Linked DNA regions of Homo sapiens: all the other regions are linked to region 1. The links come from fine-mapping of genetic effects on gene expression. A gene starts in region 1. Each other region holds a variant in brackets. All regions are shown on one strand. Distances are between the middles of the regions. Region 1 holds the start of GTPBP4 (GTP binding protein 4). Region 2 overlaps GTPBP4 (GTP binding protein 4). Region 3 overlaps GTPBP4 (GTP binding protein 4).

What was found.
Region 2: its variant is fine-mapped to the expression of GTPBP4 in whole blood (TOPMed, PIP above 0.99). The same link has a PIP of 0.9 or more in NK cells and blood mononuclear cells.
Region 3: its variant is fine-mapped to the expression of GTPBP4 in NK cells (Gilchrist 2021, PIP 0.95). The same link has a PIP of 0.9 or more in B cells, CD4 T cells, monocytes and monocytes after LPS.

Annotation. Positions count from the first base shown.
Region 1 is chr10:987,173-989,928 of GRCh38, forward strand. GTPBP4 (GTP binding protein 4) reads left to right here and starts at 1,262. Exons shown (of 17, transcript NM_012341.3): 1 at 1,262-1,355. The coding sequence starts at 1,308. It also overlaps a transcript of LARP4B not described here.
Region 2 is chr10:1,008,871-1,011,626 of GRCh38, forward strand. It overlaps GTPBP4 (GTP binding protein 4), which reads left to right. Exons shown (of 17, transcript NM_012341.3): 11 at 88-165; 12 at 659-710; 13 at 1,550-1,650. Among named protein-coding and RNA genes, the nearest start is that of IDI2-AS1, 12 kb to the right of the region's middle. RefSeq lists enhancers at 1-248, 249-749. The variant A/T (reference allele first, on the strand shown) is at 1,056.
Region 3 is chr10:1,016,010-1,018,765 of GRCh38, forward strand. GTPBP4 (GTP binding protein 4) reads left to right here. Exons shown (of 17, transcript NM_012341.3): 17 at 1,066-2,756. The coding sequence ends at 1,218. Among named protein-coding and RNA genes, the nearest start is that of IDI2-AS1, 5.2 kb to the right of the region's middle. The variant C/T (reference allele first, on the strand shown) is at 1,578.

The sequences.
Region 1 (2,756 bases):
ATCATAGCCAGCAAATCCTAATTACCCTAGAAGCTTCCTTTAGAAGTGCCACAAAGATGTAGGAGGTATGCTTATCCGCCTTGTGACACAAAAATGGAAGCATAGTTAATAGATGAGAAAAGCATGACCCAGAATGATTTTCAATATTGGAATGCTGGGAATTTATGAGAGGTATTTTCGCGTAAGAATAATAGGACTTGTTTAAAAGGATTGGAGAGTGGGGGGCATCCCAGATGCGTGAGAAGCAGTATAGCTAATGGTTAGAAGCAGGTTTGCTGGAGCCAGGCTGCCTGGGTTCAAAGCCCACCTCTGCTGCCTGTTAGCTTGTCAGCTGCACAACCACGGGGTGCTTTCGAGCCTTGTGTGCCTTTGTTTCCCCATGCACTTCATGAGGCTGTTGCAGAAATTAAACGAGTTAATATATAGTCAGCAGCTCTGAACACTGCTTGACTGAGTCAGCCCTACCTAACGTTTAATTTAAGGGATGTGGCCCTGGGTTCCCAAAGGGAGCGGCCACTCTATTCACAAACATAAAAGCAGTAAAGGCTCCATCCTCATCAACCTTCTCCTCAGTTGGACCCCACAGGACTGTCTCTCGCAACTGTTCCCTGGGCTCTCCTAAGGCACTGCGCGGAACCAGCTGCACCTCTTTTGCCTTAGATCAGGCTTTCCCTTCTCCGCCCGTTTTGGGATTTAACAAGCACGAGAAAGCAGGGCTGCAGGGAAGCCGCGAGGGCCTCCTCACCACGGCCCGGGATCAAGTCCCACGCGCGAGGCCGGGGTAGGGGCGTCATCTGCTCCACACCCAGAGGCTGGGCACGCCCCGCACGCGCGGCTTCCTCCTCCTTTGCGGGGCTCGCCGCGACCCAGGACCCCCAGACTCCCGGATCCCCTAGACCCTCTGGACTCCTAAGCCCCGCAACTCCCAAATCCCAAGACCCCGGACCCTCCAACCCTGGCCCAGGGCGCGTGGCTGGGGGCCTGAACCCGCTCCAGAAACCCGCAGGGCAGTCTGTCGGAAACCCCCGCTTTACTCAGCAGGAATTTAGTCTCCGCGCTCCCCCTAAAACCCGGGCGTCCTCTCCTCTGTACCCTCGCTCCTGAGGCCCTCACACGCCCTCCGTGGCTGACCTCCAAGCCGGGCGGGTGCGCTGTGCGACGCGGAAAGCGCCGTAGAGCACGCAGAACACGATTGGCTGAGCTCCCGGAAGTGACGTACCTCAACCGCCCGACAGTGGAAGTCCCACCTGCGCCCGACGGCGGAAGTTCCGGGAGTGCCAAGTACCCGCGTGCATACGGCTGCCGGCATGGCACATTACAACTTCAAGAAAATTACGGTGGTGCCGTCCGCCAAGGTAGGCGGCCCCGGGAGGGCCACTGCAACTTTCGCGTTCTCCTCAGCTGGGTCCCCGGGGAGGGTCCGGGCCTGTAGCCGTGGGAGAGCGGTCGCCTTCCGCTCGCCCATCCCCCGCTCCTGGGCCTGACCGTCTGGCCGCGTACTCGGGATCATTTCCCCTCCCCCAGCAGAATCCGGGGTCCACCAGAGATCGGATCCCCCAGAGACCGGGGTCCACCTAAGACCGTGGTCCACCCAAAGACTGAGGGCCCCCAGAGATGGGGGTACACCCAGAGTTGGGTTCCCTGGAGGGGCCCCGGGTGACGATGTGGGCGAGTGGAGGGGGACCCCGACATGTGAGGGAGGAAGCGTTCCGTGGTCCGTGATGAGCCTTCGGATTCTGGGTTTGGCGTAGCCCCCTCCCCTCTCAGGAATCCTGGGTTCGTTGTTCTCGTGATTTAACGTTTCATAATTTTTAAGTCATTCTCTTTCACTGTTAGATTTGGGAATACCTGTTCCTTTTCAGACCATAGTAGGCCCAGACTAAATTTTTACAGCGTTGGTTGGTGTGGCAAGAATGAGTCAACAAGTGTTGAGTATTAGGACTTTTTTTTTTTTTTTTTTTTTTTGAGACATAGTTTTTCGCTCTTGTTTCCCAGGCTGGAGCGCAGTCTCGGCTCACTGCAACCTCCACCTCCCGCGTTCAAGCGATTCTCCTGCTTCAGCCTCCCGAGTAACAGGGATTACAGTCGTGCACCACCACACCCAGCTAATTTTCGTATTTTTAGTAGAGACGGGGTTTCACCACGTTGGCCAAGCTGGCCTCGAACTCCTGATCCCGGGTGATCCTCCCGCCCCGGCCTCCCAAAGTGCTGGAATTACAGGCGTGAGCCACTGCGCCCGGCCCTAGTATTAGGACTTTTAAGAAGTCACGTTTTTATGTAGTGAACATTCGATTTGGGTCGCAATTACACAGACATTGACGGGCAACTGGAGCCTCCCAGGGACTCCTGCACGAGAGGGAGTTACTGAAGTCCCTGCAGAGTGACTGTTTTCCCCTCGTCAGTGCCTCCTTTTCTTCAGGTCTCAAGGACGGGATGAGCTTGCCTTGGAAAGCTTTGTGGGAGTCTCGTATTTTACCTTCATAGCAAAAGTTGTTTCCCCACTTCTCTCCACCATTTCTTATTTCTTCCTGACAGTTGTTCTGGCACATCTCTTGATCGATTGTAGTATTTTCTTTCTTTCTTTTTGAGATGGAGTCTCGCTCTGTTGGCCAGGTTGGAGCGCAGTGGTGTGATCCTGACTGCAGCCACCGCCTCCCAGGTTCAAGTGATTTTCCTGCCTCAGCCTCCCGAGTAGCTGGGACTACAGGCATGCGCCACCAGGCCTGGCTAATTTTTGTATTTTCAGTAGAAGTGGA
Region 2 (2,756 bases), 22 kb after region 1:
TAGGGAATTTGTTTCTACTTTTTCGGCTTTGTAAGTTTCTCATTCAGCAGGCATTTCACATAAATATTTTATATGGGATCTTCTCAGGAGAGGCCCCCTTTCATCCCTGAAGGAGTGGTGGCTCGCAGGAAGAGGATGGAAACTGAGGAGTCCAGGAAGAAGAGGGTATGCTGCCGAAGCTCTCGCCCAGTGTTCTCATGGGGGGAGGCAGGCTGTGTGTGCCCATCGTGGGGGCCTGGGGCATCGAACAGGAGCCGCGGGTGCCCAGACACTGGCCCCGTCAGGCTGCGGACACAGCAGTGAGTCCCCCTGCAGAAGCCTCTCTCATGGGGCTCTTTGGCCTGAGGGAAGATGGCCGTGAACCAAATGCATGAGTGGGATAGACAGTCCCCAGATGGCCAGAAACAGCCTCTTCCTACCAGAACCTAAAGGCCGGCCCCACAGACAGGGAGATAAGAAACAGCCTCTTCCTACCAGAACCCAAAGGCTGGCCCCGCAGACAGGGAGATAAGAAACAGCCTTCCTACCAGAAATGGAAGGTGAACCCCACTGATACTGAGAGGATTGGAGAAAAGATTGTTTCAAGTGACAAGGGGCAGAGCATTTCTGGATCTGAAAGGCAAAATGAAGCTGATGATAATTTCTCTTTCTATTGCAGGAACGAGATCTTGAGCTGGAAATGGGAGATGATTATATTTTGGATCTTCAGAGTAAGGGCCAGAGTGTGATCATTATTATAAAATGCCAATTGGACGTGAAGTATTTCAGAAAATGGGGGAAAGACTTTAATAAGTAATAAAAGTGTTTCAGCCTATTTGTCAACTTTTAATTTCTTGAAGATTAAAAGTTGCATCCTGAGGGCCAGGTGCAGTGGCTCACGCCTGTAATCACAGCACTTTGGATCCCTTATGCCCAGGAGTTTGAGACCAACCTGGGCAACATGGCAGAACCCCGTCTCTACAAAAAATACAAAGATTAGCCGGGTGTGGTGGCATGTGCCTGTAGTTCCAGTGACACGGGAGGCTGAGGTGGGAGGATCACTTGACCCTAGGAGG[A/T]CAAGGCTGCAGTGGGCAGAAATTGTACCTCTGCCCTCCAGCCTGGACGACAGAGTGAGACTCTGTCTCAAAGAAAGGTGCATGCTGATAGCACTCAGTGGGGGTTCTTCCATTGTTTCCTGTTGTTTTGGGATGGTGGGGTGATTTCTGTAGCTTTCTCCACGTGTGGGTGTTGAATGAGGCTGATGTGTTGTTTCCTGTTGTTTTGGGATGGTGGGGTGATTTCTGTAGCTTTCTCCACGTGTGGGTGTTGAATGAGGCTGATGTGTTGTTTCCTGTTGTTTTGGGATGGTGGGGTGATTTCTGTAGCTTTCTCCACGTGTGGGTGTTGAATGAGGCTGATGTGTTGATGCTGCTGCATGTGGAATTGCACGTCGTGCTCTCTTCTGCAGTGGAGTCGTTGATTTGCCGTCAGTCACAACTCATTTTGCGCACGTAGTACTTGAAGATATTAAAAACTGCTGTAAACGTAACCACCTTTTTTTTAACTTTAGAGTACTGGGATTTAATGAATTTGTCTGAAAAACATGATAAGATACCAGAAATCTGGGAAGGCCATAATATAGCTGATTATATTGATCCAGCCATCATGAAGGTTTGTGTCACTTTTTAAATTGCGGATTGTTTTCCTTTTTATTATAGTAGTATTGCTGGAAGATAGCAGCATGGCTTCGGCTCAGCTGGGCCTGTCCGCTTCATTCTGCACCCCTCCATCCTGACTCTGCCCCCTGTACCACTTCCCCACCCTGAGACTCTGGTGGAGATACTGGCCCTGGCTGGGCTCTGCTATGCTGGCCTGCCCCCTTCCCGCCGCCTCCACCCACCCACCCCGGACACTCTGGTGGAGATGCTGGGCCCCTTCGTTATCCTGCACCCCTCCATCCTGACTCTGCCTCCTGCACCTCTTCCCTGTCCCGACACTGGTGGAGATGCTGGGCCCCTTCATTCTCCTGCATCCCTCCATCCTGACTCTGCCCCCTACACCACCTTCCCCACCCCGAGACTCTGGTGGAGATGCTGGGCCTCTTCATTCTCCTGCACCCCTCCATCCTGACTGTGCCTCCTGCACCACCTTCCCCCCCACCCTGTGTCTCCGCCAGGCCCTGGATGGGCTCTGCTGTGCTGGGCCCTTCATTCTCCTGCATCCCTCCATCCTGACTGTGCCTCCTGCACCTCTTCCCCCCACCCCGAGACTCTGGTGGAGATGCTGGGCCCCTTCATTCTCCTGCATCCCTCCATCCTGACTGTGCCCCCTGCACCACCTTCCCCACCCTGTATCTCCGCCAGGCCCTTAATGGACTCTGCTGTGCTGGACCCTCTTCCTTGGGGGCTCCGCTGTGTCACATCTTTTTCCTGCCTCAATCCCCTCCCTACTTGCTTTTTCTTAGCATATAAAAGTCCACAAGTTTTACTCATCTTTTTAAAAAACGAAAACATCCTTAGACCGTGTCCTCCATTAGTTGCTATCCTGCCTTCTTCTCTCAGCTGAGCTGTCTGAAACATGCTAACATGCTTATACAATACTTGCTGTCCTGCCTTCTGCTCTCAGCTGAGCTCTCTGGAACATGCTTTTTATACAATACTTGCTGTCCTGCCTTCTTCTCTCAGCTGAGCTCTCTGGAACATTCTTTTTATACAATACTTGCCATCTGCATGTCCCATGTTGCCACTCCTTGGTTCCCACAGGCCCTCCGTCATTGA
Region 3 (2,756 bases), 29 kb after region 1:
TGTACTGCATGCCCTCGTTTTGTGGCATCCTTTAGAGGAGAGCACGGGTCAGGGTGCAGGTGGATGCCCCTGACAGCTGCCCTGGATGGACCCCTCCTTGGCACTTTGCTTTTGCGGAGGGTGGCCAGAGCATGGTCTGACAGCACTAGCAGTCTGGGCTTAGACCCTGCTGTCTGAAGAGGGCCAGGAAGTGGCCACAGCTGAGCACCAGGAGGCCTCAAGTCCAGCAAGCCCCCCATGGGAGGAACAGCAGAGGGAACTCCTGGGTTGATTGGCGGGTGATCCTGCTCATCCTTAGGTTGCAGGATTGTTCCCCCCAGGTGGAGAGCTTGAGTCACATTTAGTTTATTTGTAGCGTCTTTTGGCAAAGACACTTAAGATGGACACAGTCTGTCTTGCTGAAACGTCCTTTTATTAAACACAACAACTTTTAGTTTCAGCGTTGTGGTAATGGAGATGCAGGAGAGTCTGTGTATAAACTGCAGTCTCCTTCATGGAAGCCTGAGCTTCACTCCTCTGTGCCATTGCCATCTTGAAACCTGGCTGTTAATATTGGCATTGCCACTTGTCAGTCAGACCTGAGGAAAACAGGTTCATGGGCCTGAGTCCTTAGCTTGTGTAAGAGGGAGTTAAAACAGATGTGTGCTAACCTTCTAGGTCTAAAGTGTATCTAGTCCTGGGTATAAAGCTTGTCCTGGGTATGATTTTCATCCAGTCTTTATACAAAAATACTCATTGAGTTCCTGCAGATAACTGTGCTGGGCTTAAGAGAAAAGAGATGTAACAGGGATAACTGTGCTGGGCTTAAGAGAAAAGAGATGTAACAGGGGTAACTGTGCTGGGCTTAAGAGAAAAGAGATGTAACAGGGGTAACTGTGCTGGGCTTAAGAGAAAAGAGATGTAACAGGGATAACTGTGCTGGGCTTAAGAGAAAAGAGATGTAACAGGGTCTCTTCGCTGAGCAGACCTGAGCCATTAAACAGATTGTTACCCAGTAGTTGAAATTCAGAATGGAAAATTGGTTTTAAGTAATGAACATACTTTATTTTTTTCTCCTCCTTTTAGATGGTGAAGAAAGCCAAGACTATGATGAAGAATGCTCAGAAGAAGATGAATCGGTTGGGGAAGAAAGGGGAGGCGGATAGACACGTGTTTGATATGAAGCCCAAGCACTTGCTGTCTGGGAAGAGGAAAGCTGGTAAAAAGGACAGGAGATAGTATCCGTTTGGTTGGCGTGGCTTCGCTAGAGTGTTGCTGTTTATTTCCTGGTTTGGCACAGTATGGTTTCATGAAATTGGAGCTCTGTATAAACTGAAAAAGACAAAATAAGTAAAGCACTTGTTGCTTTGCTGAAAACTATGGTTAACCCTATATAGGTGTGGGAAATTTTTGTCACTGCATAATATTACAAATATTTTGAGTAGACAGTGTTTCCACATTTAATGGAGTATCAGTTGCTTCAGATTTTCAGAACTGGGAAGATTTACTGGTTTAACTAGGTTGTTTTTGATGGAGAAAAACCTTATTTTCTTTTGTAAGAGCTGGGAGCAAACACGTTTATGAGTGTGTCGGAATCC[C/T]GTGCTTAAAATACGCTCTTAAATTATTTTCTAGTCTTATTTTACAATGTCTCATTGTAGTCTGTCTTCAACTATTTTATCCAAAATAAACCTCCAGAAGAAAGTAGTTTTCATTTACTTAGCTCATGTTTTGGTTTAGTTATAGTCGCTATGGATTTGGCCAAATAAAAAGGCAAACAACATGACATTTCTATTTTGTTTTAAAGCAAAAATACTTTTGGGGGAGTAAAATGTTGCTGGAGGCATTAGGCAATTAAATATGGGCATTCTCCTATTTCTGTGGCCCGTCCCTGAAGTTACATGTTCAGTAAAACACAAAAACACCGCCAATGCCACCTCAAAAGCACCTGCTGGGGAGCGTTGGGGTGAAGAGCTGTGGGGTCGGAGGGACCTGCCCAGGGGTCCGTGTGCTCCTGGAGCTCCAAAGACACACAGGGGTCCAAGAGCCACCACGGATAAGTTATCAAGTCACACAATCAACATTATAGCTGAGGAAAGGACTTTAGTTAATCACACTTCTGGATTACATGTGGCAATTTTAAAAATTTACCAGGGCTGGGCTGGGCGCAGGGGCTCAAGCCTGTAGTTCCAGCACTTTGGGAGGCCGAGGTGGGCAGATCAGGAGGTCAGGAGTTCGAGACCAGCCTGGCCAACATGGTGAAACCCCATCTCTACTAAAAATACAAAAATTAGCCATGCGTGGTGGTGGGCATCTGTAATCCTAGCTGCTCGGGAGGCTAAGGCAGGAGAATTGCTTGAGCCCAGAGGCGGAGGTTGCAGTGAGCCGAGATCGTGCCACTGCACTCCAGCCTGGGTGACAGAGAGAGACTCCGTGTGAAAAAAAAAAAAAAAATACCAGGTCTGGTTTTTGAAATTCTTTCTCCGTATTAAACACCAAAACTTAACATATAGTTTACTTTGTGTTAAACAACAACAGTATGGCCGGGCGCGGCAGCTCATGCCTGTAATCCCAGCACTTTGGGAGGCCGAGGCAGGCGGATCACGAGGTCAGGAGATCGAGACCATCCTGGCTAACACGGTGAAACCCCGTCTCTACTAAAAATACAAAAAATTAGCTGGGTGTGGTGGCGGGCGCCTGTAGTCCCAACTACTTGGGAGGCTGAGGCAGGAGAATGGCTTGAACCCGGGAGGCGGAGCTTGCAGTGAGCCAAGATCGCA